Linked DNA regions of Homo sapiens: region 2 is linked to region 1. Evidence: fine-mapped QTL for protein levels in blood plasma. A gene starts in region 1. The other region holds a variant in brackets. All regions are shown on one strand. Distances are from middle to middle.

Evidence for each region. PIP is the posterior inclusion probability: the model's chance that the variant is causal. Protein levels are from antibody-based Olink assays in UK Biobank. Linkage for the fine-mapping came from a reference panel and not from the study's own genotypes, which makes the PIPs less certain.
Region 2: its variant is fine-mapped to the plasma level of the CRTAC1 protein (UK Biobank, PIP above 0.99).

What each region holds. Positions count from the first base shown.
Region 1 is chr10:98,023,480-98,039,101 of GRCh38, forward strand. It overlaps CRTAC1 (cartilage acidic protein 1), which reads right to left and starts at 7,142. Exons shown (of 15, transcript NM_018058.7): 1 at 6,970-7,142. The coding sequence starts at 6,993.
Region 2 is chr10:97,874,653-97,890,274 of GRCh38, forward strand. CRTAC1 (cartilage acidic protein 1) reads right to left here. Exons shown (of 15, transcript NM_018058.7): 12 at 9,554-9,699; 13 at 8,134-8,176; 14 at 5,597-5,740. It overlaps MIR3085 (microRNA 3085), which reads right to left and starts at 1,245; the gene lies at 1,161-1,245. RefSeq lists enhancers at 1,172-1,672, 7,352-8,551, 13,548-14,161, 14,162-14,774, 14,775-15,387 and 1 more and a silencer at 7,840-8,134. The variant C/A (reference allele first, on the strand shown) is at 7,953.

The sequences.
Region 1 (15,622 bases):
AATGACGGTGTCTCCCTCATACTGTTTACAAGGCAGCATTTCTCCTTGAGGACTCTTATTTCCCCACCTGAAAAAAGCCTCTTTGGATATACACAGCTTCTCAGATGAGAGGTGCATGATGATGATTTCTAAGAAAGAGCCTGTTCTTAGAGACCAGAGTGAAAGGGAATGTGCCACCCCTTAGAGGAAGAGACTGCCGGTGACGGAAAGAGCCTGCCACCCAGCTCCTCTGATTACAGGGACTGACCTCCAGAGGCTAAGGGACCTGCTTCAGGACACACAGAAGATTCATGGCAGGAATCTACATAGTGACGCTCCCATGTGGGAAGGGAGGGATGTCACCTCAGTCCTCTCAGGGGAGCCTCAAGTGACTTCCTACCTCCCATCCTGAGCACAAGGAGGACAAGACCAGGGTCAGACCTCATGTGAAAAACACCAACCAAGGCTGTTCCCACCAATCCTATAAGAGCGCCTCTGCCCTTCTGGGAGGGGAACTTCCAGCTCCCAGGCCTGTTCCCCTTCCTAAGAGCTGTGTTAAAATTTGCACAACATGATGCTTCCTTTAAGACAGGTCTACATCAATAGAGGGCTGGAATGCCAAAGCAGGAATCTCCACCGAGGTGGCTGCTCTCTAGGTAGGTGAAGGCTGATGTAAGGAAAGAAAGCAGTCCCTGCAGTCCCTCCTCAGGTCACCGGGACACTCCCAGGGCTCAGCAGTGATTCCCATGACCTTGTCACTGTACTTGTCCGGTGCAAACAAAGATAAGAGTAACTGGAAACAACAGAGAGGGTCATTTTATACTCTCTGCACTCTCAATTCTTCCATAGCTAATTAAAGTAATACGTCAAAATGTCCCTTGGAAGAGCTCTTTAAGAATATGTCTGTTAAATAAACAAGGTTTCACTGATTAATGACACACCTTCCCATCCCTCGTTGAAGTTCCTTGTGGAACTTCTGGGCCAGGAGGGTTGAGCAGGAAAGGATGGAGGAGAAGTCGCCATCACCCTTTCTTGGAGGGAGGGGGCACATATCCAGCCTCTTGTCATTTGTGGAGCTATCAGTTTCTCCTCTGGATGCTGATCAGATTTCCTGGGCTGGAACCAACTTACAGGGCCAGGGTACTGGAATTTTTCCAAGAAGTAAACGCTTTGCTTCTTACAAAGTCAACATGATTTCTTTCAAGGAAAATTTTAATTTTTTTAGTGTCTAGGGTTTTTGAAGGGCAAATCTTTGGACCTTTCTCTAAAGAGAATGATTATATTATCCTTTTTTTTTTTTTTTTTTTTTTTTTTTTGCTCTAAGACCACCTCTCCACCACACACACACACACACACACACACACTCATAGAGAGGCATGGGGGTGGGAGAATGATTTGTCCAATATTGCACAATGAGTCAGTGGCATAGCCAGAAATACAACTATACAAACTCCCAATTCTTAATAATAGAAATATTAATATAGTCTCTATAATTTTCTATTTATTTTTGTTTTCACAGCTCACATTTAATTTTCACAACAACTCTGGGGGAATCTGGGTAAAACGGTCTCAGGAGAGAGCAGATCTGAATTGCAGACCAGCTCTGTCACTTGCTTGCAGTGTGATCCTGGCTGCTTCCCTCTCCTCTCTGGATCTCAGTGCCCTCGGCTGTGAAATGGGAGAATTGGATGAGAGTACTTCTAAAATCACTCCCACCTCTAATGTGCTGTGATTCTGTGCTGCAATGCTCCAGTCCCGGGTTTCTCAATCTTGGTGTTAATGACATTTTGGGCCAGATAATTCCTTGCTGTGAGACGTGTTCTGTGCACTGTAGGATGTTCAGCAGCATCCCTGGCCTCTACCTAGTGGATACTAGTAGCACCCCATTCCCCAGTTGTAACAAGAAAAAGTGTCTACAGACATTGCCAAATATCTGGGAGGGGGAACAAAATAACCCCTCTAGTCACCATTCAAGGATTTCGATAAGGTAAAAATCATGAGTGGTTCAGGGGAAAAACGGTCTTCCTCTCCCTTCCTTTCCCCCAACCCTTTCACACCTTTCTGCACACTTTTCAAAGACAACCTCTCAGTCCTTTGCTGCTTCTTATTTCTTAAATGCCCTAAATGGTCTGGGGTGTGTTTGGTGTGATAATGAACCAATTGATTTCATACTTTCTCCTAAGGAAAGTTCACAGGTTTATGTCCCCTAAGCAACCAGCCAGGCTCTCCAGAAATCCCTAGCAGAGCCCAGGCTGGCCTGGAAGCCTGTATCTGCAGCCTGCAGGAGGCTCGGTGAGCACGAATTTGTCAGCACTCTTAAATCACTAGGCTCCAAGGAAGGCTTCTCCCAGCAGAAAGATCCTTCCTTAGGAATCAATAGCTCAGGGCCCTCCATCACATTCAGAATTATCCTGGGACCCATAAAATTTCTTTTCCCCAAGCATGGCAGAACCCCAAAGTGAAAACCCTGAGGTGGGGCAGGGAAAGAGGCAAGGAGGGAGCCCTGCCAAGAAGGCCTTGCCCATCAGCCCAGATATTGCTGTGAGCAGAGGCTGATGTGCAAACCTGGGCACTCAGGCTCACTCACTGGGAAAAAGAAGACTCGGGGGTTCCCAGTGATTCAGCAATAATATCCCCTTCCAACTGAATACCTCTTTACCTCTAACCAAGGGCAGAGGAATACTAAAGACTGTCTCCCTCCAGCTTCGCTCCCCTACCCTCATCACATGGTTGTCAGCCTCATCATTTAGCAGAGAAGGAAACTGAGGCTTGCAGAGGTTAAGTGGTTTGTTTAAGGTCTCTAAGCCAGCAAGCGGAGACCAGATTCTAAGCCTGTGTCCTTACCATTACAATGAGAGGGGGAAGGGTCAGCCATCTGGTGGGGCTCATAAAAGCCCCACTGGACAATTTCCTGTTTCTCATAGTCTAATGCCACTTCTCAAGCTCTCTACCCACTCCCGCATTCAAACAAAAGTCCAGAGAGCTTGTACTATAACCACAATGTATGTAAGTATATTCCTCTGGTCTTATCCAGAACCAGAACAAGTCTTGAGAATGCAGGCTCATTTCACCAGGTAAAGCTAGGAGCTGGTGAGATCTCAAGCATAGCCTCTTAAGACTCCAGTTTAAAGAGAGGGGCTTTTCCTCTCCGGTGGTCCACGTGATCCTGCACCTCCCTCCTCCCGCTGAAGATGAAGCTCCAACTTCATCTTCTGTGAGCATGAGGGAGAGGAGGGGACTCAAGCATCTTCCCTGGCAACAAGCATCCCTTTCGTGAGTCTTAGGGAGAGAAGAGGATTCCGCCTCTCAGAATTCTGGCTTGGCAGCAGTGGGTTTCTTACGAGGGTAGGCTTCCGAGTCTGCTGAGGCTCCAAGGAGAACCAGGAGGAAGTCCATCCAGTGTGCAAAGAAGCCAGGTGGGGAGATAATAACAAAAGGGGGCCGGGCGCGGTGGCTCACGCCTGTAATCCCAGCACTTTGGGAGGCCGAGGCGGGCAGATCACGAGGTCAGGAGATTGAGACCACAGTGAAACCCCGTCTCTACTAAAAATACAAAAAGTTAGCCGGGCGTAGTGGCGGGCCCCTGTAGTCCCAGCTACTCGGGAGGCTGAGGCAGGAGAATGGCGTGAACCCGGGAGGCGGAGCTTGCAGTGAGCCGAGATTGCGCCACTGCACTCCAGCCTGGGCGACAGAGCGAGACTCCGTCTCAAAAAAAAAAAAAAGAGAACAAAGGGGGCCGCCCACAGGCCACTCAGCAAACCTGTTTCCCAGAGCCCAGCTCAGATGTCGACAGCCAGGCTCTCGGAACAGAAGAAAGGGCAATGGAAATGGTAGTATCTTGCAGGTCACCGAAGAAGTCCAAACATAAGGATTTGGCAAAAATAGAATGTCCTAGCACTCTGACCTTGAGCTGGGAGCAGCAAGGGTGGGGGAAATAGGCAAATACTCTTTGGAAACTCTCCAATCCATCTATAATCTGAATCTGGGAGGTCTCACCAGCAGTGGTGTGACTGCAAGCAGAGAGACCCCACGCCAACATTCCTTGGCGCTCCAGACCTGGGTTCCAAGACCACAGTGAGGGACTCGGCACTTCTGACTCCTAAATGCACAGACTGAAACCTGGACTTGCATGGCTTTTGCTTAAAACACCACTTGGAATAATGAGACGAGATTGTAGAGGCAGGGAAAGAATAATTAGGAATTTCTATGACCTGTGTATGTCCATGACAAGAACTGTATTTTCTCCTCACCTCCTCACTCTGAAAAACAGATTCAAAATAGAATCTCCCCAACTGTATGGGATGTATTAATTTACCAAAGCCTGGTCAGTCAATAACTATGAGTGCCTACTGTATAGAGAAAGTATGTCCATCTTTATAGTGAAGAGGAAGCAGGCCGCTGGAGTGGAAACAGCTCTGAATCGAGCAGTGGGAATCCTAGGGCCTAGTTCCATGTCTTCCACCAAATAGCCATGTGACCTTGGCTTTATCCAGCTTCAGTTTTCTCATCTGTAAATTAAATGTGCATGTGAGTGTTGGGATGGAATGGGGTTGGATGAGATGCTCTCCAAGGCTCCTTGCTTCTGGCTCTAATGTTCTGGAACTCCATGAACCCTTAAAGAGTTCAAAGAACACAGCGGCACCAAGCACAAAGGAATGATCCCCGAGAGAGGGTGGGGCTGTGTACCAGCTCTGTCTCCTTGGAATGTTGTGCTTGCACCTGCCCCATAGCACCCGAGGTCACAGGACCACCTGAAGCCCAGGAAGCATGTGGTAGAAGGATTCCAAGTACGATGGTGGTGGTTGAAGGCTGTAGCCTGAGCTGCCTTAAAGCATTAAGTTGCTACAGCCAGTAAAGGGCAAGAAGTGAGAAAGTCAGTGGTCCTGAGCCAGGTACCTTTGGCGCCCCCTACTGGACACCAAGGAGTCTGCTCCACCTTTAGGCTTCCACCGCCTCAGCACGGAAGCAAGGGAGCGCTTGAGCATGAGAGGCTGTCACAAGCTGTTTAGTAGGACTGCCTTCCCGGTTGGTGGTATTCTTTCTATAGAAGTCTATTGCACTCCCTAGAATTACACAGGCCATTGGTCCACAGATTTACAGGGGCACCCCTGCGCAGCCATAGGACGTCTTAACCAAACATCAAGGTACCAAGGAATAAACACCAGGGTTCAGAACACCAGGTGCAGCCCAGATGGAGAAGGGAAGAAAGAGCAACAAGCAGGTATTTCGCTGCACAAATCCCCAGTGGAGAGAAGGTCTTGGGAAATGCAGCAGAAAAATGTTGACTGCAGCAGACAACGATGGAGCTGGGGGTTGGGATATAGATTGATAGCACCCATAAAATATCTCCAGGCTGAAGCAGGTACCCTAGGAGTTTGAACATCCACCTACATTCAGGGATGGGATAAGGTGGAGGATTCAGGCTCAAATGAGCAGCCACAGAGCAGGTTCCCCAGACTCCCTACACACCGTTTCGACCTTTTCCAGAGTCCATTAGTACCCACCGGAAATGGAAATGTTCTAATTGTGGTCCTCTGTGCCATCATCAAGACCCTCAACTCCCTTCATTACCTCTTAAATTGACTTTAGGACCTACTGCCAGAAGGATGTTCTTAACCAAGTCAGAGAGAGAGAGAGAACATTTTCTCAAGAACCATGCTGGAACAGCCACCATGTTCCCACTTTTCCAGCCTCCACCTCTCCCCCATGGCTGAGGGTGAGGTACTCTGTGACTCTCAATGAGCTCTAATTCAGTCTTGGACATCTCCAGCCCCAAGTCGTCTGGGTTCCAAATCTCCGTCAATCGCTTATCTCTTCCCACATGAGTTCTCCCCTGACTCAAGAAAACACTATAGAACTGTCCCCTGTCCTGGGACCCTCTTCCCTTCTTTTCCACTTGGCTTCACGTGGAAAGTCCTGCACCCATCCCAGAAGACACCTCAAGTGCAACTCAAGAATGTGTCCTGTCAGGAGAACGGAAGCATCTCCTGGGATGTGCAGAAGCCACACTGGGTGCACCCACCAGCAGCAGCAGCGGCGGCGGCGGCGGCGGCGGCGGCGGCGGCGGCGGCAGCAGCAGCAATATTCATTAGTCATTCCTGGAGGAAGCCCCCCCAGCTCTCAACCCTAGGAGAATTTCCCCGCCACTCTGGGAGGCTTCCATCCAGGCTGGGATGACTTTGGATTCTTGAGTTGCTTTCTGCAGAAGCGGGACTAACCAGGGCTCCCAACTACTGTACTGCAAAGAAGCGCGCTGCATTGCTGGGCATGCCCCCAAGCCCGGCCTGGCTGCCCCATCAAAGCCTCCAAGTGCCCCCACGGGGTCGAGGAGGACTCAGGGTTCCCCTGGAATGCCTGAAGCCGGCTTGCCTCAGGCAGCCTGAAGGGAAGACCACACCTCGTCCAGCATAAGGCGGCTAGCAGCTACGCCGCGCGCGGGGCTGGCTCCCGGAGCTCTCTGCCACCCAGCGCTGTGCCCGGGAACTCGGCTTCCCAGGGGAGGAAGAGCCAGCCCGCGGGGCTCTTCCCCAGCCTGGAAGCGTAGGCACTCGGCCGAGGCCAGTGGCTTCCCAGGCCCGGGTCTCAGCCTGGCTGACTGGGAGACTCTCCCGATAGCCCGGCACATCCCTCCTCACCCGCTCCGCCCCCTCCAGGCCCCAGAGGCCCCCTCCCCTGACAGCTGACCTCCAGTGCGCCCCCAACACTTTCTCTGCCAGCTGCTGGCTGTCGCCCCCACACATCAGCTCCCACCTCTCCGCCACCTCCAACCCGGCCGCCGCCTCACCCCCAGCCCGCGGGGGAGGCTCCGCGCGCCAATCGAGTCCAGCGCCTCCCAGCAAGTTAGGAGCGAAGCCGCCGCCTTCGCGATCCCAGTCTTCCCGGGTTCCCGGGCGGCGTCCCCGCCACCCTTGCGGGCGGATCCGGGGGGGCGCGCAGAGCTGGAGAAACTTTCTCCGCCTTAGGGTGGGGGGCACCGGTGCAGATACTCACGCCGGGGTCAGCGCTCGGAGCCATCCTCCCGCTCTCGGCCCCGCCGCCTAGGGGCGTGGGAAGCGGGCGCTCGCTGCCGCCTCTGCCGCCGGCGCCGCCGCCTGCTTGCTCCCAGCCCCGGTCCCGGGCTGGCCTCGAGCCTCCCGCCCCGACGCCGCGCGCTCGCTTTATACAACTCCACTCGAGCGCGCCCGGTCTTATGTAAAGGCTGGCGGAGGCCCGCAGCCAATGGCGCGGCAGCTGGAGCCGGGGGCCCGGGGTGGGGGGCGCCGGCGCGGCCAATCGCGGCCCCGAGAGCCCGGAGAGCCGGGCGTGGGGAGGGAGCGCCTCCCCGCGCTGATTTAGGAGCCGGGATTGCGGTGGCAGCAGCCGGCAGCCAGGCTGGCCCGGCGCGGCGCGGCGGCCACTGGGGTGGGCGGCGGCGAAGGCGGCGGCGAGGGCGGGCGCCCCCCGCGCCCCGCCACTGCGTCGCGTAACCTTCAGGCGGCAGCGAGGCCTGGCGAGGAGGGGAGAGGGCGCCTGGCTGGGCGCTGGGGGCCCCAGGCCGGAGGGAAGCGAGGGTCCCTCGGGAGGCAGCGCAGGGAAGGAACGCGAAGGGGGAGGGGAGGGCGGCGAGCCCCAGGACCCCGCGGCCACCCCTGCGCGCAGGACCGAGGGTGGAGGCGGGAGCGGCTGCACTGCCTTCCCATTTCCCCCCAGGATAGCGATCTGGCGTCGCCGGGCCGGGCCAAAGCGGCCGAGCGAGCCGCGCTGATGGCGAGATTTCGACTACGGAGCTAGAGCCGAGCCGATCTTTATCCAGCCTGGGGACGTGTCCGAGCACCTCCCGGGGACTGCTCAGTATGGAGAGCAGGGCTCCGCGACGGCCCCCGCAGGCGGGGAGCGGGCGAGCGCAGCTCGGAGATCAGGCGCGCAGAGGCCCAGGCGGCTGCGGGCAGCGCCGCTTCTACCCCACCCCGTCCCCACCAGCAGTGCCCCCACCCCATCCCACCTAGTCCCTACCCCAGCAGTGGCCGAGTCGGGCCTGGCCCACCCGCTCCTGCCGCCTGCGTCCTACTAGCCTCCCTCACCGCTTTGATCACAGGTACTGCCCGCCTCTCCTCGCCCCCAACCCGCTGCCTTGGTGGTGGTGGGGGGATGGTTTCTGCCTCTCTGGACCAGGGGAATGGGGGTGCTAAGCGCCAGAAAAACACACTTGATCAGCAATGCTCAAAATACCCCTGTTCAGGCAGGAAACTGGCCTTGGTGGGTCACACTCTGAAGGCAAATCCTTTATTTTACGCCTAGAATAGAGCCTGGCACATAGTAGGCGCTCAGTGTTTATTGAATGAATTCTGAGCTTCCATGAGTGAGGTCTTTGGGTTTCTGAAAGCCAGGTAAAGGGGCCACAGAAGAGAAAGACTTGGGAATCCACCATCGGAGAGGGAAGGAGCTAGGACTGTTTTCCCATCCGTTGACGCTTTTGTGACCATCACCCACTAGTCTGGCTTCTGGGCCCTTGACTCTTAGAATGATTTGAATGTGTTCTTTTATAGAGGGCCACACATCCAGCCTCTGGCCCCTGTTATCCACAGATTTTGAGCAGAACTACCAGGACCTAGTCTGGGCTCTGTTTTCAGGTCTCTGTGATCTTCCTCTGAAAAGAAATAGCTAGGCACAGACAAACTTTCTGGCTTTTTGAGCCCCCATCAAGCCTGTAAGGTTGTGGGCCCCTTTGAAAATCTGGCAAAAATTACTGAATCATTTTTCTAGAAAAATATACAAACACACACATTTACACACACACACACACACACACACACACACACACACACACACACCTTGAGTATACTTTCAGGATCATTAGGAACCCTGAGTCTCTTGGGGCTCGGTCCAATGTCAACCTGTTTCTTCAGGGGTCTAGGACAGTAGTTTATAATCACCCTCCTTTTGGGGATCACAGACCCTTTAGAACCTTTCAAGAATCTCATAAATGTTATGGATCTGTTGCTTATAAAAATGCTCACTCACATACACACATGTTGACATGCAACTTTAGGAGGGTTCGTGGATCATTAAAACTTAATCTAGGGCCCTGATTAAGAACCTTCATCTATCGGCAAATAGACTCTGCCCCCAAGGCCATATCTGATCCCCAGCTCTCTGCATAAGGAGTCCAGTTGGCTCTGCACCCTGCTGGAACATGCCACCACCTTGTTCTGAGGGCATCTGAGTCATCTGGCCAAGGCTCTGGCACCTGAGAGACTGTCTCCACACTTTCTCTGCATCTTGGTCCCCGCCACCCTCTTAATGTGGAAATAAGTTGCAGGTTGTCATATTATGTCTGATCTATGAGCATTCCTTAGCCAGAAACTCCAACTCAGGGAGACAGCAAGTGACTGGTAATTAACCAGTTTCACTCAATCCCAAACATCTGAGCACACCTTTCTTGGTTTTTGTTCTCACCTCTCTCTTCTCCGGTGAAGCTGTGCACAGCAGCCCCAGCTGTAGCGCCTCACCTCACCCAGACCCGACAGATTTAGTAACCAGCACGGTAATTATCAGCATTAGCCAACCAGATGTGAATAGGTGCTCTGTGCAAAATAACTCTGTAATAATCTCACACTTTCCTGCAGCTAGCCAGGTAAGGTTACAACAGACCAAAGGTGCTAGGGAAGGACAGAAAAATGCAGGAAATGATGGAGATGTTCCAGCCAGGAAGTGCTCCAGGGAATACAATCTGGCTTCAGCACTTGAACTTGTGAGGGTTTAGCCCAGTGGGCCAGGCAGTCCTGGTTGGAAAATTTCTCATTTCTCTGATGTCCTCGATGTCCATTTGCTCAGTTCATGTCAGTGTCTGCTCAGAGCTCCAGCCCTTCCCCACCCCCAATCCCGTGAGAGACCTCTTGTCCTCCCACATTGCCCAAACACAGCTTTCTTGAGGCACATGCACACGGTTATAGACTGAATTGTGCCTCTCCGGACCAAATTCACATAGTGAAGCCCTAACCCTTAGTGTGACTGCATTTGGAGATAAGGCCTTTAAAGGGGCAATTAAGGCAAAATGAGATCATAAGGGTGGACCCTAATTCAATAGGACTAGTGTCCTCGTAAGAAGAGAGAGAGATACCAGAGATCTCCCATTTCTCTCTGTGCATCCTCAGGAGAAAGCCTGCCTGAGTAACAGGAGGAGGCCATCTGCAAGCCAGGAGCAGGGCCTCTGCAGAAACCAGACCTGCCAGCACCTTGATCTGGGACTTCCAGGCTCCAGAACTGTGAGAACATTAACTTCTGTGGTTAAGCTCCACGTCTGTGGTATTGGCTATGGCAGTCTGAGCTGACTAATACACACATTTTCAGCACACCCTTACCCCATGCATCTTGTTCAGGCTCCAGTCCTTTGACCCCAGTGAAGTTGTTTTTTCTTCAGAGTGTTCCCCCACAGACTTCTTCATTCTTACCTGGGGAACGTGCTTAAATTGTTTTCTCATCTGTTCATACCCAAACCAAGTCTTCCTTCCTGCGCCACCTTCCAAAACTGCCCTGGCCAGCAGTTTTCAGCTCTCCTGCAGGTCTACACCATCTTATCACCTGTGATGCACATTAGCTTTTTTTCACTCAGTGATACTTGGCCTCCCTATCAGAATATGAGCCCCTTGAAGTCCAGAGTTTGTACCTTGCAGTTGACTACCTCACAGAACCCAGCATGAAACTGGGCACAGAGTGAACACACATTAGATATTTGCTGAGTTATTCCAATTAAACCTATTTACTTAAAAATACTATTAAAGCTGTACAGTACTTCATTTTCTAAAAACTCAAGATGTATTGTGTGTGTTAGTCATCATCAACATCACTGGAGCAGGAGTTCTCAGGAGCTAGTTTTCTTCTAAAGTCCAGGATCAGAGAGGTTGGACTTTACGCAAGTTGCTAACAGTCATGCAACAAGTTAAGGACAGGACAAAAACTGTAGGAAACACTGAAGACAACCTCCAGACCCCATGTCCTTTCATTGACAAATGACTTTGTTAATTCTCTCTCTACATTAGAAGATTACTTGGCTATCTTCTCTCTCTCCGGGTGAGAAGTCAAGACACCAGATCTTAGAGATGCTTCTGTCCCAAGAGTTCTGTCACAGGAGAACAGAGAGGCTGGTACAGTTCCTCACACCCTTATCTGAAGCCCTTGAGGCCAGAGGCATTTTAGAATTCAGAAAGGCACCATACATAAACATTCTCAGTGAAGCTTTGAGCAGCATATTGAAATCAGACACATTAATATTTCTGCAATGAAATATATGAAGTTTACACTAAGCAGGTGTGAGGATAAAGTAACTTCACATCAGTTTAGGTCAGATTTTGCTACCAGATGAGTCTTGGCATCAAACTTGCAAAACAAAAATCCTTTTGACTTTCAGAGATTTGGGGATTTGGAATTGTAGATAAGGGATTGTGTATTTTAGGCTTGGTTGTCTCAAAAGAAATGAATCTTTTTGTAAGGGGGTGGAAAAACAGCAATAGTTGAAAATGGGAAACCACAAACTGTGAAAGAAATGAGGAGCTAAAGGGGGTATGAGGAAATAACCCCTTCTCAAACCAAGTCGTATGGAGGGGTCGTCCCTTTTTCCCAAGGAGTACACATTTATCACATGGCCGTTGGGTTTCAGATGCACTTGTGGCTTGTAAGAGGCAGATGCATAGGATGGACTTTCAAGGGGAGGTAGGTTAGGGGTAAAGTTGGACAGGAACTCTTTTAGAGAAGCCACAAACCCTGGGGGATGGTTCAGTCAGGGCCAGAGCCAGAGCCATCACAGATGCAGAAAGGAGTCTTCCAGATGGCCAGAGAGTTTGTTCAGAAGACCTTGAGCTGTGAGCGCATGCTGCAGGGAAACTCTGCAGGCAGAGCAGCCCCAGGAAAGGGATGCTGGAAGAAGGAGGACATGATGGAATCCTGGGGAAGTCTGGTTAGAAACTTTCGAGGCTGTGGGGCAGGGGGAAGCCTGGAGGTAACGATGCAAGCAGGTGTCTGCTTATCATGTTAACCTGTGCCAAAATGGCTTGGGTTCCAGGAACTTACCTGCCTATGTGTCCAGTGAGCTACGGGGTTTTCCCACACTGTCGTGGGGGTGGCTCTGCAATCTGAGGGGCTGGTTAAGAATGTGATGCAGGGAGGGAGATGGGAAAAGGAAAGCCATGGTGGGCCGCTGACCACACAGCTCTCTACTCCTGCTTGAGATGCTCAGCCAGCAGTCTTCATGATAAACAGGCTCCCTGGAGTCCAAGTCAACAGCAGGGAAGCTTCATCTTGGATCTTTATCATTGTTGCTGACCTTGGTCCTGCTCTACCTTTCTTCTCAGGTCCTAGGACCCCACTGTTACCTTTTTCTTCTGAGAGAGCTCCTGCTGGTACCCCCAGCTCCAGTCACTGGGTCTCCATCCATTCTCACCTCCTGCTGCCCTACCCCATGACCCAGGACCTCAGGGCCTAGGATTCTGGGCTCTGGATGCTTTCCTTTCTTCCCTGTGACTGAGTCTTTAACACCTGCTGCCCCACATTCCAGGCATCAACTGCCCTCTTGAACCTCTGCCAACTGCCTCATGCCAGCTTCCTTTAACATGCCCCCAACCTGGCCTCACTTCTGCCTCCAGCTCCCAGGACCTCCCCAGACCCTGGCCCTGCCTTGGTGGACAGGTCCTGTTTTGGGTTCCAGCCCTTCCTGGTCTGGCATATCCAGCTGCCAACCCAGCCAGGTTTCTGACAGACATGAGCTCATGGTCATGGTTTAAAAAAGAAAAGAAAAGAAAAACCCTGTCAGCAGTTGGGTGGTGGTAGCATACATTTACTAGCAGCAAATGCCAGGGAGCTCCTGAGCTAGGGATGCCCTCGTCAGTTTCCATCCTAAGGGAAGAGAGATAAATGGGTGAAAAGTGAACAGAAGAGGAAGGGGAACAGGAAGGAGTAAATAAAAGGAGGGGAAGAATCAAGAGAAGAGAGAAAGGGAAGGGAGGATGTCGGGAGAGGGAGCAAAGTCGGGTGGGAAGAGTGTCTGTAGCTATAGCCTGTTTTCAGTGTCTAAACCGAGCATGGAGAGCTTGTCATCCATAGAGTCAGACATTGACACAAAAGAAGATGGAAAAGGTAATTGAGCCTGTGTGTGTGTGCATGTGTGAGGAGGGGTGGAGGAGGGGGGCGGGGAGAAAGAGAGAGAGAGAAAGGGGACATAAGAGAAAGAGAAGGGTAAAGAAGAGAGAAAGGGGACATAAGAGAAAGAGAAGAGTAAGGAAATGGGCCATCCAGGAAGTAGATAGAAGTGGAGGGCTAACAAGGTGGACAAAAACCGATGGCATCTGGAAAAAGGAATCCATGTTTGAAGTTTGTAAGGGCAATCATTTCTGATTACTCTTCTGATGTCATTAACCAGGGTTTGTGGAAAACCCTCTGCCCTGACCACCTATCTCTGCATCTCTTGCTTGGTTCTTCTCTGATTTTTTATAAAGCTGTATCCTCATCTTGGCACCAAATTCCATTATAGATAGGATGTATATCTCATGGGTTCAGCTTGAGGGTATGGAGGTATGTTATGACCTACCATATGCAAGGGTAAAATGAGGATAATAAAACCTCATGACGGGGATTTCATAAGGAATACGTGAGATAATGTACGCAAAGCCCTTAGCCGAACGCCTGGCACATAGTGAGCATTCCATAAATGATAGCTATCATCCTTCTTCCCTTCTTTTTCCCCTGTCTCTGTGCCCAACTGTCACCTCCTTCTGCCTGTCATTCCTGTGAAATGCCACTCATTTTCATCCTTTTCTCTTCCTCCAAGCCCTTTAGCACATCACATGTGCATTTCTCCTATTGCAGACATGTAGAGCCCCGCCTTCATATTCTTCCCACCCAATCTATGATAATCCTTTAATTGTGTAGCACTTTATAGAATAAAAAAAAATCCTCATTAACACCTGTGAGATAGACACATAAATGAAGGCTCAGAGAGGTGTAGTGTCTTGCCCAAAATAGCACAGCTAATAAAAGGCAGAGCTGGAGCCGGGCGCGGTGGCTCACGCCTGTAATTCCAGCACTTTTGGAGGCCAAGGCCAGTGGATTACCTGAGGTCAGGAGTTTGAGACCAGCCTAGCCAACATGGCAAAACCCCGTCTCTACTACAAATACAAAAATTAGCTGGGCATGGTGGCGGGTGCCGTAATCCCAGCTACTTGGGAGGCTGAGGCAGGAGAATTGCTTGAACCCAGGAGGTGGAGATTGCAGTGAGCTGAGATCGCATCGTTGCACTCCAGCTGGGTCAACAGAGAGAGACTCCATCTACAAACAAACAAACAAACAAACAAAGACACAGCTGGGATGCAAATGTAAGTCTCTTGGGCCAAAATCAGTGCATTCTCCACTGTCCACAGAGTTGAGTCAGTAAGTGATTCTTTTATGATGCTATTATTGAAGGTAGAGACCTGGTTTTATATTTCCCATAAACCTCTTCAAGGTCTGGCCCACAAGAGGCCCTTAGTCAGTGTCAGTTATTTACTTCCAGGCACCCAAAAGAGCTCAGGGCTACCCTTGGCTCAGCCCTGCCTCCATGGTAAAGGGTCCTCGCTGCTTCAGTGTTGCTCTGTTCACACCCCAGAGGCAGGATCCCAGCCTAGACTCAGGCCTGTACGCACCATAGATGAGGGCTGAGCAGAAGTGAAGCCAATATTCCATCCTTTGGTGAGGCAGGGAGAATATCATGAGGAATTAGGCTTGTTTAAGTATAGCTCAAACTAGCAGAGAATAAAAGCAACTCCATGCTCATTGCAACAGAAAGGAATTGAGATTTCATGAAAAGAAGGCCTTTTTCTGTGTGAGAGTTGAGAGATGTTAGAACGAGATTCCTGCAGAGGTTGTAGAAACTGCTCCCCTGGAGGTCTCTAAGAGCTGGAGCGCTATTTGCTTTCCAGCAGGATGCGGGGCTGAAGGCTGTGTGTGCAGGTGAGGGCACAGGCAGCAGGAGGAGGGCTCAGGATGCAGCAGACCTGACCTGACACCTCTACCGCGGGAGGCAGGTGGGAACTCAAAGGCAAGGCGGGGCGGGGCTGGGAGGAGAGAGCAGGCCCCAGGGAGGCCAGAGGTCAGAGGGGCAGACAGCACGAGGAGTCGCAACAGGCTGTCGAGTTCCCGGTTCCTGGTGGAGAGCCCGGCAGGCTGTTTGTTCTCGGACGTGTGCAACCGCTGCCGGCGGGGCTGTGGGCGCCGCAGCGTGGAAGGAAGGGGTGGGAAGGGGTGCATTCTGGACCCTCGCATTGATTGGACCAAATGGACAAAAGCCAATTATTTTTCTCTGAGTAAAGCAAGGTACGGAGGCTGGCCATCAAAATATTAAACAGACATCGCTTCTTGGTCTTTTGGCTGAGATCAAGTGTAAAATATTAAACACAAATAACTAAATCTGAAGAGAAGTCTTTCACAATGCTTGTTAAACAAGAATGCTGGAAGTATTCTGGGAACACAAAATACCCCAGAGAGAAGTGCCACATCTTCCTGCTTCCTGGAAGATCCTCTTTTACTAGACGACCCCCTTTGCCGGGGTGGGGAGAAAGAGGAAGAGTGGTAGGTAATTTAACTGGTAAGAAATAAAAATATCTGGCCAGCCGTGGTTGCTCACACCTGTAATCCCAGC
Region 2 (15,622 bases), 150 kb before region 1:
AATTTGTTGGGGGCTTTCTATGTGCCAGGCACCATGTCAAGTCTAATATAATAACTCTGTGAGGTATTATCCCCATCTTGCAGATGGGAAAACTGAGGTTCAAAGACACCTTACCTACTTTAAGTCTTTGCTCAATGCCTCTTTCTCAGGGAGCCCCCCTGCCCCCGCCGCTATTTAAAATGGCATTCCACCTCCATCCGGGCCTTCCCGGATGGCCTTGATGTTACTCTTCTCCAGCCCTCCATAGCACGTATCATGCTCCAACATGCTACAGACTTTCCTTATTCTGGGTATTGTTTAGTGCCTGCCACGTCTTGCTAGGGCAGGGACCTTTGCCAGTGTTGTTCACAGATGTATATCCCAAGCCACTAGAACAACATCCAGCACACAGTAGGCGTTCAGTCACTGTACATCACATGAACAACTGGTTAAATAACTTCCCCAGTGTCAGTTACCTAGAGATCGCACAGCATAAGGCTTAAGAACCCAGGCTTTGGAGCTAGTCATGAGGTTGAATTACAGCTCTTGCCACTTTAGCTAGCTATGTGACTTTGTGTAATTTACTGTTTCTGAGTCTCAGTTTCTCTGGTAATAAAATAGACTCATAACATTTATATTCTGGGATGGGTGTGAGTATTCATGGAGACATGGATGTAAAGTTCTTGGCATATGGCAGGCATTGCATAAATGTTAGCTGCTTTCCTGGAGGATGTTTTTCTTCTCTCTTGCGTCTCATTTTCCCTCTGGTGGCCTATTTTTTGACCACTTCACTGTCAACAGTAGTTCCTTAGAGGACAAGCCACCGTGGGAGAGGCTGGCGTCATCTGTGGTGTTAACCAGCCCATGTTCTCTTGCCTTCCTTCCAGGATATGCCTGTTGCTACAGACACAACAGCAACTTCTGGCATGTTCCTGGCCCCTGTGGCTGGGGTTCTGGCCTCAGAGAAGACTGGCCCTGGGCACAGGGAGGCAGGGAGGGGCTCGGTTTGCCTTCTGGGCTGGAAGTCTGGGTGGAGGTTCAGCCTGGAATCTGTTGGAAGAACTTGGCTGGCTCCCTGCAAAAATGAAGTGCTCATCTTCCTGTCTACACGGGGCTCTTGGAGTCTGGAGCGGAGTTCCTGCTTCGGCCGAGGTCCAGTGGCACTGGCCTGGGTGTGATACCCAGACCCTGGGAGGGGGCCATAGCAGCCAGAGTGACACATAATCAAACTCCTGGCCCTCAGAATGGCACCTTCCCAGAGTAGGGTTGGCAACCGTGTAGATGCTTGAAGAGGCCTAGTGGATGGTTTACCATTCTGCCTCAGTGAAGGTTGGCTGAGCCCGCCTGGCGAGGGGACTCTCGACATTAGCAAGCACTGCCACCTCTTCTTGCAGACTTGAACGTGACCGTGGGGAGGACTATTTCAGATCACTAGGCCTCCAGGGGCTCCATTTTTCCCCTCCCAATCCTGCTCTTGATCCTGGGCAGCATGAGTGACTGTGGCTTTTGCTTAAACCAATTCACCATCCCAAATGAAGAAGGGAGTGGTAGTTGAGAGTGCCAGCTGACAGCCAGACTCCTGGGATCCAGTCCTGCCTTCGTCTGTCTGGGCTGTATGACCCTGCACAAACCATTTAGCTTATCTGTAAACGTGGGATAATTACAATACCTTCCTCTTGAGATTATTATGAGGATTAAACGAGTTGATTATTGTAAAGAGTTTAGATTCAACCCAGACACGCCAAGCCCACTAAATGTAAGCTATTATTGTCATTTTAAGGGGTATGTGCCTGTGAAGAGGGAGTATTCTTGAGCAGAATAAAAATGGTATTATTCTTATTATTTCTTTTTTGTTGAAAAATGGGGAGCATTTTTGTGGCAGCACTGGCCCACCTTCCCACTGGAGTGAGTTGTGGCTGCCTGGTGCAGGCAGGTGGGGCACCAGCTCCTCCATTTGCATAATCCCTTCCGGGTCCATTTCATTACTTGACTGCCCCTAAAGGCATTTGTTATTTTTGTTACAAATTAAAGTGTAGCATAAGGCAACAAAGATGTCAGGAGCCTAGGTGGGGCTAAGGGACAGGGAAAAGACAGACTTATCTGTGTGCAGGAGGGGACGGAACGGTTTGGGCTCCCACGGGTCTCAGAGAAAGGGATTAGAAGAAAGAGGGGAATGGGAATGCTGAGCCTGGGTAGCTTGGGGGTGGCTTTGCACCCGCAAATCTGTGGCTGGTATAGCACAGACCAGTAGATGCATTGAATTTGAGGCACCTGTTCAAAAAGCCTGTACTGCTAGCTCAATGAGGAGGCTCTGTTTTTTTTTTTTTTTTTTTTTTTTTTTGGTAAGGGGGTAGGTAATGTTGAGTGGGTTCACTATCCACCTGTCCTCTGTATCTTTCAGCCTTGTATCTCTTGCAACACAAGCATCTTGGGGGCAGGGGACTTGTCCACCTCATTAGAGGGTCTCTATCACATTCCTCATGGGAGGAACCTAGTGCTTGTCATACAGGATATTCTCAATAAATGCTTGCTGAATGAATATGTAAATGAATGAATGCAGAGAGCTTGCTTTCTGGTATAGCAACCTGAGAATTCAGCTCAACTTTTTAGAAAGCCCCTTGGTGTCCCACTCCCATCCCATGCACTTGGCTCCTCTATCTGGCTGGAGGGAAGGCAGCGTAGGGGTGGCAACAATGTTACCTTCACTTACCATTACATACCTAGAGCGTAGCTCAGTACCTGGCACATAATAGGTGCTCAACAAATATTACTTTCACTTACCATTGTATGCCTAGAGCCTAGCTCAGTACTGGGCACACAGTAGGGGCTCAACAAATATTGCTTTCACTTACCATTGTATGCCTAGAGCCTAGCTCAGTACCTGCACATAGTAGTAGGGGATCAACACATATTACTTTTACTTACCATTGTTACCTTCATTTACCATTGTACGCCTAGAGCCTAACCAAATATTTGGCACATTGTAGGTGCTCAATCAGTATCTGTTGAACTCATGAATGAATCAAATGGAAGCCTTATCCTGGAGTCTGAGTGCTGCAGTGGTGCTCTTATCAGCTGTGGGAACTTAGAACTCCTCTTTGCAACTCACTGGACCCCACTCACCCAACAGGATCACATGACACAGATATACCCTGTTATATAAAACTCATTGTGAAGGCATTCATGGTTGTCACTTATAAGGCATCATCTGAAGTCTGCTGTCACCCTGAACCCCCTGATGTCCTTGGCAGGCCATCTCTGTAGTTGTCTTGTCCCTTATTTCTTGTGCTGTTGTGTATGGACAGTCAATGGGCTCTGTTATCTTGTCATTTACCACTGCATTTGGAACCATTCCTCCATGGGTTTTGGGTTTTACTTATCTCACTATCTTAGATCCACTTTGTTCATTTTTTAAAAGGCAGCAGCTTCCAGAAGGACTAGGGAATAGTCTGAACAGTGACAGAGCTGCCTGTTACCCTCTGACAAGATGGTGTGGTGGGAAAGGGCTCCAGCCCTGGCCTGGGGAGCAGTGGGCTCCATGACCTTGGGCACAGTGACCTTGAACACTTCAGCTCTCTGAGCCTCATCTCTGGAGCCCTTTCAGATCTTTAGTTCTATGTCAATACACAGGAATGGGCTTTCTAGAAGTGGAATGATTTTTAAGTTGGTGTCTGCTTTTCAGGGAAATTGTAGCTGTTTTAATTTAAAAACTTTTCATTTATGCTTCTGTTCTAAGTGTAAAAACAGCACTAGCTACAAGGAATTCATATTTTGTGATTTATTAGGAGTATTACCATGATATCAGAAAATGGCAGGGGCTTTTTTTTTGTTGAATATGTTTTTAAAAGGGTTGCTGCATTCTTAAGTGTAATTTTATTATATCCTGGGATGACTTTTTTTCCCCATGAAGAATAGATCTATGTTTTATAACAAGCCTTCACTACTGAGGCTGGTCGTGAGCATATTCTGTGGCGTTACATCATTTCCAAAGAGTGTTCTGGCTACAGGAGCATTCTATTTTCCAAGGAGATTGCAGAGACCAAGTAGCAAGGTTCTTTCTAGAAATCAGAGTAACCTGAGATGAGCCAGGCCTATGTCCAGCCAGACATTGAGGAGTCTTAGAAAGGAAAGGCCCTTAGGGATATACCAGCCCAACTCTCTTGTCATCTACATTAGGGAAACTGAGGCACAGCATGGAGAAGTGACTTCCTGCAGGTAAAAGGCCTAGAGTACACACTCCATTTCTGCCCCTCACTCATCACACATCCTTCACTTGGCCCAAACCCTGGTCCCCCAAATGTGAACATTGTTGTACGCAACCAAACCACTGCTGGTGCCTGAGGGTGACACCTGCTTTGTGTTATGATCTGCTTTCAAAGCATCTCATGGTGGAAGGGCTGCTCCTAATTCAGCATTCCAATCAGTTCTACTTGCCCCAGACCCTTTTTATCATCAGTTTGGCACTAATATCTAGTAGAGAGTTTATTGGCATAATTTCTTCAGAAAAGAGGCTGGAAGGCTTAGCAAGTTCAAATGATAACATTTTTATCAAGAGTCCCAAAGGACCACCCTTTTCCCTCCCATCACCACCACCAACACCAATAAGGCTTTCTCTAGCACAGGAAGTCAGGGGCAAAAAGCAGAAACAGCACAGGCCAAACCAGCAGGCACATGGTACATTATCGGATCAACCGGCAAGCAACCACCTGGGAGCCATCTTTGTTAAGGGCAAAATAATGAGCTCACGAGACACTGGAGGATACAAGACTATCTTGATTCTTCTGAAGGAGTGAGGGAGACTGGATGGGGTATTGGAGACTTTCCTTTCTGTTTTCTCAGAAAACATGCAAAGAAAGTCTTCACAAACAACTAAGGTTGTGTCAGTATCGCCCAACCTTCCCTTTTCAAAGATGGCCACCCCTGTTGTCCATTCAGAGGGAGCACACAGCAGAACCTACTGGGCGTGGAGAGAGAGACAAGCAGCAGGAGAGAGATTTAGTTTTCCACAAAGGCTGTTAGTTTTGTTTTGTTTTTTCCTTTATTGATGGGATTTAAAGTGCATATAACTGAAGGCAAAGTCCAAGGCCTAGAGAAAGATATGAGGCCCGAGAGAGAGGCTCAGAGATTCTAGAGGCGGCTGAAGAATACCCACCTAAAAAGGCCACTTGAGCTGCAAAAACGATGCGGCGGGGAGACAGAAAATGGGAAAAAGAGAAAGGGGGTGGGGACGGGGTGGGGGTGGAGGAAGGAGTTTGGGAAGAAGAAATTACCAGTTTAGAAATTCAGCCAAAGATGAGTAGTAGGAGTTAGTTTATATCCCAGCTATGAAAATACGGGCTGACCTCAAGGTAGGAACAGTTGTTTTAGGAAAAGTAAGAAGAATGATAGCCTCAGGCCAGGACACAGCATCCCCTGGCCCTTCAGGTGATGGTAGAAGTGATGGGGCTTCTCCAAGCCTCTGTCATGGTCTTCCCTGGAGACCCAATATGGGTCAAAGGAGACTCTATCCAGCCAGGAGAAGGAAGGGGCTGGGGACCTTGATCTGGGGCCTACCCAGAGCTCCCCAGTGGAAAGCAACATCCTTTTGCTACTGGCCTATGGCTGGGGCCCCACTCACCCACGCAGGCTGTGCCATCCTCGTTGGGCTCGTAGCCCCGACTGCACTTCTTGTTGGTCCGGCACCTGTAGCTTCCATAGGTGTTGACACATACGGGCTTGTCTCGAGGGCACACGAATGGGAACTGGATGCATTCATTGGTGTCTGCAAGGCGAGGGGAACCACTCACCATGAAGGTGTGGGGCAGCAAGTACCAGCCCAGGCTCTGCCTGCCTATACACTGTCTGGCTTTGGGAATGTGCCTTCCTCGCAGAGCCTCAGTTTCCCTGCTTCAGTTCCCTTGGCTGGCTCCTCCTGTACTTGGTCTCTACATGCTGGGGGCAGGGGGTGGGCACTCAGGCTTGGTCCTGGGTCCTCTCTTCTGTCTACTACAATCGTTCTAGGTGATCTCTTCATGCATGGATGATTCCGAAAGTTCTATCTCCAGTCACAACCTCTCCCCGTGGCTCCAGACTCACGAATACAATAACCCATGACCTACTTGACAGCTCCACTTGGATGTCTAAGATGCACCTCATGCTTAATATGTCCAAAATAGAACTCCAGATTCTGCCCTGCCCTGCCCATATTCTGGCCCTCTGTTCTGTCTTCTCTAGCTCAATCAACACCCCCATCATCAATCAGCTGCTCAAGGGGAAATCAGAGCGACCCCTGATTTCTCCGTCTTTCTTGCCCCCTGTGCAATTTCACAGCAGAGCCTGTCCACTCTGCCCCGCAGTCCACCAGTCCACCTCTCTCTGTCACCTCTTTCTCATTCCTCTGCCACCACCCAATTTCCTGCCATCGTGACCTCTTGCCTGGATTTCTGCAGCTGCCTCCTCACAGAATACCTGGCTTCCCCTCTTCCCTCCAATCCACTCTGCAATTCAGCAGCTGGAGGGAGCCTTTAAAAATGTGAATCACATCATGTCACTCCCCAGTTTAGCTTCTAAGGCTCCTAAGAGCAAAATTCAGACTCCCTACAGGGGCCTCATGGACTCTCCATCATCTCCAGGCCATACTGGCATCCCTCCTGCTCCTTCAACACACAAAGCCTTTGTCCTGTCTCCCGCTTTTCACTCCTGCCCTTCCCTCAACTCTTTCTGGGCCTAGATCCTTCTCATCCTTCAGGTCTCAGCTCAGAGTCTTCCCCCCGAGGCCCTCCCTGACCACTCTCTCTGGAACAGTCTCCAGGGAGCACCTTGCTCAGAGGGTTCTGAAATCATCTTGTCCAGGTGTGTGGTCATGCGTTCAGGGTCTGTCTCCCTCCACTAGAATGGATGCCCCTCTTGTGGAGGCGCGGGGGTGGCACTTGGCCTACATCCCCAGCTCCCAGCATGACACTTGCTGTGTACGAGGCACATAACTGCCTGTTGGGCGATGAAAAGGAAGAGGAGGCTGATCTCAAAGGGTCCTTCCTGCAGGCAGAGAAGACTCTGGAATTTCTATGCACCTGCACTATGTGTTTGGAGTGGGGCTGGGTGGGCATGTGGAGAGTGTAGGGGAGTCATTTCCTCCTCCAGCCACCCTTGGCACCACTGCTCCTCCACCTCCCCACCTGTGCTCCTTTGTTCAGACAGTGCCCCCCACCAGAACCATGTCTCCCCTCTCTGTGACTGCCGAACTGCTCCTCATTCCTCAGGGCCCAGCTTGGACCTCACTTTCTCTAGGGCACCTTCTAGGACCCTCCCTAGGCTGGTTTAGGGCCCCTGCTTTGTCATCTCCAAGCCCCTGCCCTCCCCCATCTGGGCCCTGATCACACTGTGTGGTCGACAGCTGTTTACTTTTGTGGCTCTCCATTGGTTTTCAGCTCCTGAGAGTGGTATCTGTCTTGTTTACTCCTGTATCTCAGTAGCAAAGGGTTAATGAGCAGCTGCAGAGTAGACTTGGGAAGAATGCTGGATGAGGGTTCAAGGAAGGAGGGATCCTTGGCCTGACCCCTCCTTGCTGGTCACTGGGATGGAAAGTGTTGGGGGTGAAGGTCTCCTGGACACTGAACTTCTAGGCTGCCCCTTCCCATTCCAGGCTCTTGGGGACTTTCAGAAGGTTCTTGGACCGTCAAGGAGCTGCCATCCTGGTAGTGCTGCAGCTACCTGCCTGCCCCAGTACTGCACCAGGCTGCAGTCTCCGTTCCACACTGTGACCACACTCCATACACTATTTTGCCCCAATGCCCTTGGCAATGCACACCCTTGCCTGCCAGCCCCCTTGCTTGCTGCTCCACATGGACTTGCTGGCCATGGCATGTGGCTATTCCCCCTGTGCCAGGTTGGTGGTGTGTCTCCTTCCCATCTGCAGTTTCTCGGTACTCATGGCAGGAAAACACTGCCAGTTTCCAGAACCGCAGTGATTCAGCCTGTGGGTCACTAATATCACT[C/A]CCACCCTGGTGAGTCATGTGGTGGTTGTCTTGGCATCTGGAGTCCCAGGACAAACAACACCCTCCCCTGTCCTCCTTTCTGCCCCTTGCTTGCACCCTGGACCTTGGCATGAGTCAGGCGGGCATTCCCCAGGGAGATTCCGGCCTCTACCCCATGCCCTGGTGACTGAAGGCAACTCACCCATGCAATGGCCATTTTCCTGCTGGGAGAATCCTTGGCCACACTGTAAGGTGGGCAGAAGCAGAGACATGAGTGAGTTGAGAAGGTCCCATCCCAGGTTCCCTCCTAGTCACAGCCACAGAGTAGTTGTCACCCTAACCACAGTGTGAGGCATGCTCTGAGCTCTGGGCCTGGGGGGAGCCCCCTCCCTTGTAAGACCCTTCCTTTGCGCTGAGAACAGAAGGCTGGCGGGAAGGCCATGAATGGATACGGTTCAGACTCTTGCTCATTTCCCTGTGCAAAGGATCCACACGAGCTGGGACGTCTAACAGAACCTGTCCCTTCTGTAGCATCACCCTGTGACTGAGGCTGGGTCTGTCAGGGCAAAGTGTAATGAGGGCTGGGAGATGCTTTTTGAGGTGTCTGCTCACTGCCCACATTCACTTCTCCAAGAACCTCTCCCTCACACGGGTGGGTGCCTGCAGCCATGCTTGTGTCCCACCTCTCTGGCCAGGGCTGATGGGTGGACATCCTAGCAGGAGGGAAGACTCAAGGCTTTGCAGCAAGAATTTGAACAAATTGACTCAGAGACTTAAGAGTTGGGAGCCGGCCCTGCCAGGCTGTGGAGGCTCTACCATGCCCATATGGGGGTCTCAGAGACAGCAGCCTGGGGTGGGGCAGGGGACTAAAAACGTAACACACATGACACAAAATGTCAATCAACCGTACTGATGAATGAGGTGGGTGGATGGGGATTGTTGGGGAAGAGGGGCCCCTCTCCTCCCAAAGCCAGTGCACTGACAAAGGTCCTTGAGCTCCTAGGGCTGAGGCCATCAAGCTGCCAGTTTCTACTCATCCTGAGCTTCCCTGAGTTTTATGAGTGATCCTCCTTATAAGCCCCCTTCATTTGTGTCAGTTTCAGTGGGTTCCTGTTAATCGCCACCAAGTGAACCCCATCAGAGTTGGAACGACACTGCTGAGATGGGTCCAGAGCTGCTCCTCAAAGAGCCTCCAGAAAACCTGGTGCAGGCTCTGAGCCCCACCCTAGGGCAATAGGAGGTCTTGTCAGAGACTCAGAAAGAACCAGGAGGGCAGCAACAGACCTGGGGTCATTTTAAAACTTTGCTCACAACTGGCTGTACAGCCTTGGTGGGCCTTGGTGGATTTCCTCTCTTAACCTCAGTTTTCTTCCTCTGTAAAATGGGTGCAAAAATGCTTGCCCTGCCAATACACCAGGGATTCTTTGAGAAGCAGAAGAGATGTGGGTGTGATAGTGTTGTGCAAACTACAAATGGAGGGATCAGTATGAAGCCTTCGCTTTGCCAAGATTTCCATCACTCTAGAGGCTGAGTTTGCAGATTCCTGGGAACCCAGCTTCAGCCCATGGGGTTGTGGGTGGTGCCCGCTTTTCTGGCTATGAGGCCCAGATGCCTTTGCCCACCTCCAGTGGGGCTGGGTCCTGAAGTGTGTCCTCATCCCGGGGGTAGAGGATCTCCAGCACTGAGTTCATCTCCCCGCTGGCCACGTTCCGGCTCACCATCTTGCCATCTGGCCACGTCACCTCCACACTGCTGGCTTCATCCTTCCCTGAGGGGCAGAAGGAGAGAGCATCAGCAGCAGAGGAGAGCAGGAGGCTCTCAGCGGAAGCATCAGCATCAACTAATTCATCCATTGAATAAAAGCATGAATTGAGCACTGTTCTAAGTGCTAGGGAAATGGTGAACAAGACAGATTTGAGGTCCCTCCTCTCTGGAGCAATGCTGTCCAATAGACCTGTCTGTCTGCAAGGACAGAAATGTCCTGCATCTGTGCTGTCCAGTACAGTAGCCACTGGTAACATGTGGCTGTTGAGCACTTGAAGTGGGACTCACGTGATTGAAGAGGTGAATTTTCAATTTTATTTAACTCTAATTAATTTAAATTTAATGGCCACACATGGCTGGTGGCTGCCATGTTGGATAGTGCAGCTCTTGAACTCACGTTCTAGCAGACAGGCCAAGCATCAGGAGGCTGTACTGGAGGATACAGTAAGGCCTGTGATAAGCAGGTTGTCTTTGGAGTCTGGCATTCAAATCATGGCTCTACCCCTTACCTGGTATGTTGGAAAGAGCATGGTGGGAAGTGGGTGGGAGACCTGGGGACAAATCCCAGCTGTGCAGCTAACTGGCTTTGTTATCCCAGGAATGCTTCTTGTGTTTCTATTTATTGAGCTCTGCTAAGGGCCAGGCTCTCTCTTGTCACTGGGGATGCCCCTGTTCTCATGGAGTTCCCAGTCCAGTTGGGGAGACAAGCAAACAGATGAACAAATAAATAATGCCAGATATTGACAAAAGTAGGGCAAGTAGGTAAGGAGGAGCTGGGGGTTGCCAGGGCCTTGTCTAGTCAGGTGGTCAGGGACAGCCTCTTAGGGAGGCGGCATTTGCACTGAGCTCTACATAATAACTTGGAAAAAGAGCTGGGCATGGTGGCTCATGCCTGGAATCCCAGCTACTCAGGAGGATGAGGCAGAAGTATTGGCTGAGCCCAGGACTTCAAGGCCAGCCTGGGCAACATAGTGAGACCCTGTTTCTGAAAAAAATAAAAACAAACAAAAAACAACTTAGAAAAGATGGAGTGATAAAGAGATGGCAGGTGGAGGACAGGGGAGAAAGACCATTCTACAAATCTAAGATGCTTACAGAAGATGATGGGAACCTCAGAGATATTCACAGTGAATCCATTTGCACACAACCCTAAAGCAACGTGCCACATCATTGGTGGAAAGCAGGCTGAAAAGATTTGTCAGATGTTTAGGCACTGTCAAAGCAGGCCCCAGCTCCCCGCGTAAGGAAACAGGCCCGTCACTGTGGCAAGGTCAGGCTAATGGTGATGGATTGGGGTGGGGAGGAGGCGGGGGCTGGGCCTCACCTTCCAGGAGAGGCTGCTCTCAGGTCAGCCCCTGGGAAGGAGAGCTGTGCCCAGCACAGACAGGGGGAGAACACAGCCCACTCTATCACCCATCAGGGCTGAGCAGATGTGGGGACACGGGGTCCTGCAGGGGGACCTGAAGTCAATACACTCCCCCAAACACCATTCCCAGGCTAAATAATATATCACCCACATATATGCACCATTATTTTTCCTAATATATGTAGATACTGTTAGAAAACAAATTAAACTTAAAATTGCTGTTGAATGTATATTCGCATTTGGTCATTACTATCCACCAATGAATTTTACAATGATAGCTACTATGGGGTGGACGGTAGTTGGCAAAATGTCTTGATGTATAAAAGGGGTTCCCATATTTTAGAAAAGGAGGTTTGGAGGCCACATGCAGACTTGGAGGAGAATCTCTGTGTAGACTTCCTGTAGAGACCACTGTGGGGCATGGAGGAAGGGAGCCGGGTGCTGGGGGGAGGACCCATGATGAGGGAGGTTCCAGAGGGAGTTACGCCTTGTGAGCCACATCCCCCAGCTTCTAGATCCTTCCCATGTTTGGTCTCCTTTTGCTCTCTCACCCTGGCCTCCAGGGGAGTATCACTGGAACATCCCAGCCTTGCTGCTGCCATGCTGTGAGCCTATGAGGGCCAGGACCAGAGCTACACTCTGAAGAGTCCATGGAGAGGCAGCCGCTGCCCTCATGGGCACAGCAGGCAGCAGCAACGGAGAGGCTCGGAGACAGAGGCTCATCCTCACACACTGAGTTCCCCTCCCACACAGCTCAGTTTCTCTTCCCACAGGGAAATCCTCTCTTTCCAGGCCCAACCTTACCGTTCTGGGTTTTGCTTTATCAAGCAAGAAATTATTTCTCATCACTCCCTCAATCTACAAGAATTCCTTCTGCAGAAGCGGGGTGAAAATGGGACTGGGGAGTGCCAACTACAGATTTTTTTTTCTTTTTTCTTTTTTTTTTTTTGAGATAGTATCTCAATCTGTCACCCAGGCTGGAGTGTGGTGGTGGGATCTCAGCTCACTGCAACCTCCCCCTCCCAGGTTGAAGCCATTCTCCTGCCTCAGCCTCCTGAGTAGTTGGGATTACAGGCATGTACCACCGCGCCTGGCTAATTTTTGTATTTTTAGTAGAGACAGGGTTTCGCCATGCTGGCCAGGCTGATCTCAAACTCCTGACCTCAAGTGATCCACCCACCTCAGCTTCTTAAAGTGTTGGGATTACAGACGTGACCCACCACACCCGGCCAGATTTCTTTTTTTTTTTTTCTAATTTGAAGTAGAATCTTGAGGCGCAAGAGATTTGGCATTTTCAGGGTGTACAGTTCCCAAGTTAAGTGGCACATATAAAAGGTAAATATTTGCCATTAAAAGAAGGAGACAAAGAACAGCAAATGTTTCTTACCTAAGCCTGCAGAACAGCTACATGAATGTGTTTTCCAGACTGACTGAAGGGCCACAAAGGACCCAAAAGAGTCACGGAATATTCATAGACAATCACAGATTTGCATGTGGTACTTGCGGCACTTAGGTTTTTTTTTTTTTTTTTTCTGTTTTTATTTTGAGATGGAGTTTTGCTCTTGTTGCCCAGGCTGGAGTGCAGTGGTGGGATCTCAGTTCACCACAACCTCCGCCTCCCAGGTTCAAGCAATTTTTCTGCCTAAAGCTTTCCCGAGTAGCTGGGATTACAGGCACCTGCCACCACACCTGGCTAATTTTGTATTTTTAGTAGAAATGGGGTTTCTCCATGTTGGTCAGGCTGGTCTCGAACTCCTGACCTCAGGTGATCCACCCAGCCTCGGCCTCCCAAAGTGCTGGGATTATAGGCGTGAGTCACCACCACCAGCGGGACTTAGTTTTGAGTACTGCTTCCGCAGCTTCCTCCAGACCCAGACGTGGTGCAGGGGGCCTGGGGCTATGAGATAAGCAGGCCTCAGAAAGCACAACCAGCAGGACTCCCTCCTCTGCCACTGTGTTTTGCTAACTTGGGCATCCTCTCTGGGCCTCAGCTACTTCATCTGTAAGATGGGGGTGCTGGCCAACAGCCTTACCACTCCTAGGAAGCACAGCCTTTCTACCCTGGAGCAGGAGTCCTGGCCTGCTGTTAACCATTCACCTCAGCATCCCTGGCACCATCGGCTCTTGGTCATGGGGTCTCCCTACAGTTTCCAAAGGGCTTTCAGGTGTTGGTAACAACAGTGAACACTGACAGCGTGCCCCAAGCTGTACCAAGTGCTTTATGATGCTAACGCATCGAAACTTCACATCTCCACGAGGAAGGTGCCAGTGTTATCATTTCTGCCTTAGAGATGAGAAGGTGGAGCCATGGACAGATGCAGTGAATCGCCCAGTTGCCCAGCAGAGGTCCGAGAGATCCCAGAGCCGGTATCTACTGTGCCCCTGTTACACTGCCCACCCTATCCCACGCCCAGCAGCCACCATATACCAAGCTTTGTGCAGGGATTTGGGATTCAACAGAGAATGAGACAGACCCAGGCCCCATTCTCATGATTCCCATGGGAGCGATGAATACAAGTGATTATATTATAAGCTGGGAAAGTGCCACAACAGCACTGTTACCATGTGGTGAGAGAGATGGGTCATTTCATTTGGGTATTGCAGGAGGAGTAAGAGTTTGTGAGGCGGAGAAGGGAAGGAAGGAGCGTTCCAGGGAGAGGATACAGTGTGGGCCAAGGTACAGCAGCGTGAAAGGGTAAGTTGTAGCTGAAGATCGGGAAGAAGTTCAGAGCGGGAAAGAGTGTCAGAATGTGTATCAGGTGGGAATGTGTATCAGAGGAGACTGGGGAGGGGCTTCAGAGGCTTCACACTTACGAGGTGGGTATTTATCCCCATTCTCCAGATACTGACATTGAGGCTTGACAAGGGGAAGTGACTTGCAGGTGTCTGAGCTAGGACTGGAAACCAGTCTCCTGTCCTTAGGCGCAGCTCATCCCTCTGCCCAGGAAATCTGCGTAACATCTTAAGTCTTTCCGGGGCTGCACGGGCTGAGGGGGACTGGCTCCCAGACACCGCACACCAGCAGCCTCGAAGCCAGCTGGTCCTGCCAGGCCTGTGTATAGGGGAGGGCTGAGCAGAAGAGCGCCCCCCATTAACCAGCAGAGACATGAGGTCAGGAGCAGCAGTGAGTCACCTCTGGCAGCTTTTAAAGGACAGAGGCCAAGGAGGCAGAGAGAATTGCACTTTTCAGAAGAATTACAAACAAAACAGATGGTGGGAATACAGTTGGTAGAATATTTTTGCACTTTAATAAAGCAATTTTTATGTGGGCCACTGAATTTCCCTTCCCTAAATGAGCATCAGCCGGCTCGGAGAGGCAGCTCTGAGTCACCTGCAAGCAATTAGCTGAAAGGCGGTGGCATGTGTGGGTGGGGCTGGGGCACCAGCAATACCAGGGGCAGTGGAGGCGGGAGGGAAGGGGGGGAGGGGGAAGGGGGGAGGGAGAATGGTTGGGGTGGCTGCCTGAGCCAGTGACTCCCAGTGGAGCTGGCGGAGGCAAATAGATGATTGGTGTTGTTTTTATTTTCCGGGTTTGGGAGTGAGCTGCCTCAGCCCGCTGCCAGCTGGGAAGTGGAGGGTGGGCATGTGGGGCTTGGGGGTGGGTTCCGAGCAACCAGGTTGGCGGTGGGGGAGCCCTCGACCAGGGCCATAAGCAGAAATGCTTATTTTCAGCTGGAGGTCCGTCTGCACCGAGGAGCAGCAGGGACAGGCCAGGGTGAAGAGGGGCTGTGGAACTTGGTGGGGGGGGGTCCACTGAGCAAGGCAGGGTCCACTGAGAAGGGACCCCACAGCAAGATGTCGCTATGAGAGCTCTGCACAACACAGTGGGCCCTCTGGGAACCCCGCATGCACTCATTACCCATGGACGGAGGTGGGGAGTACAGGTGAGGGCCTGCGTCCTCTGGGTGTGCTCCCGCGGGAGCAGACACGATGTACATGGGGCAAGGCTGAGGCTGTCTGAGAGATGCACACGTGTACACACTCACATACATGTCCGTGTACTCACACATGCGCACTGCACCTTGCTGCAAAGTCATGGGGAGGCAGCGCGTGACTCATGGAGGCAGGAAGGGGGCAGGGGCCCTGGGGGCAGGCAAGCTGAAGCCTTGTGAGTGCTGGCAGGGGAGCTTCCCGCCGGCCCCTCCCCTCTACTCCTCAGTCATGCGGGACCTCAAGGCAGGCCTTTCTCAGATTCATGTTGTTGACATTCCCGCTTCTCACCCCAACTGCTCAGAATTGGAAACAATCTAACTGTCCTTCCAGAGGGGACTGGGTAAATAGATGATGAGTGTGAGTGCTGTCTCACAGTGAAATACTCCACAGCACTGAAAGGAAACAAGATATATGCACAGACTTGGTATGCTGTCCAGGATGTGTACACACACACACACACACACACACACACTCTCACACGTGTATGTAAGACAGGCTCTCACTCTGTTACCCAAGCTGGAGTACAGTGTTGTGATCATAGCTCACTACAGCCTCAAACTCCTGGCCTTGAGCGATCTTCCTGCCTCATCCTCCTGAGTAACTGGGACTATAGGCTTGCACCACCACA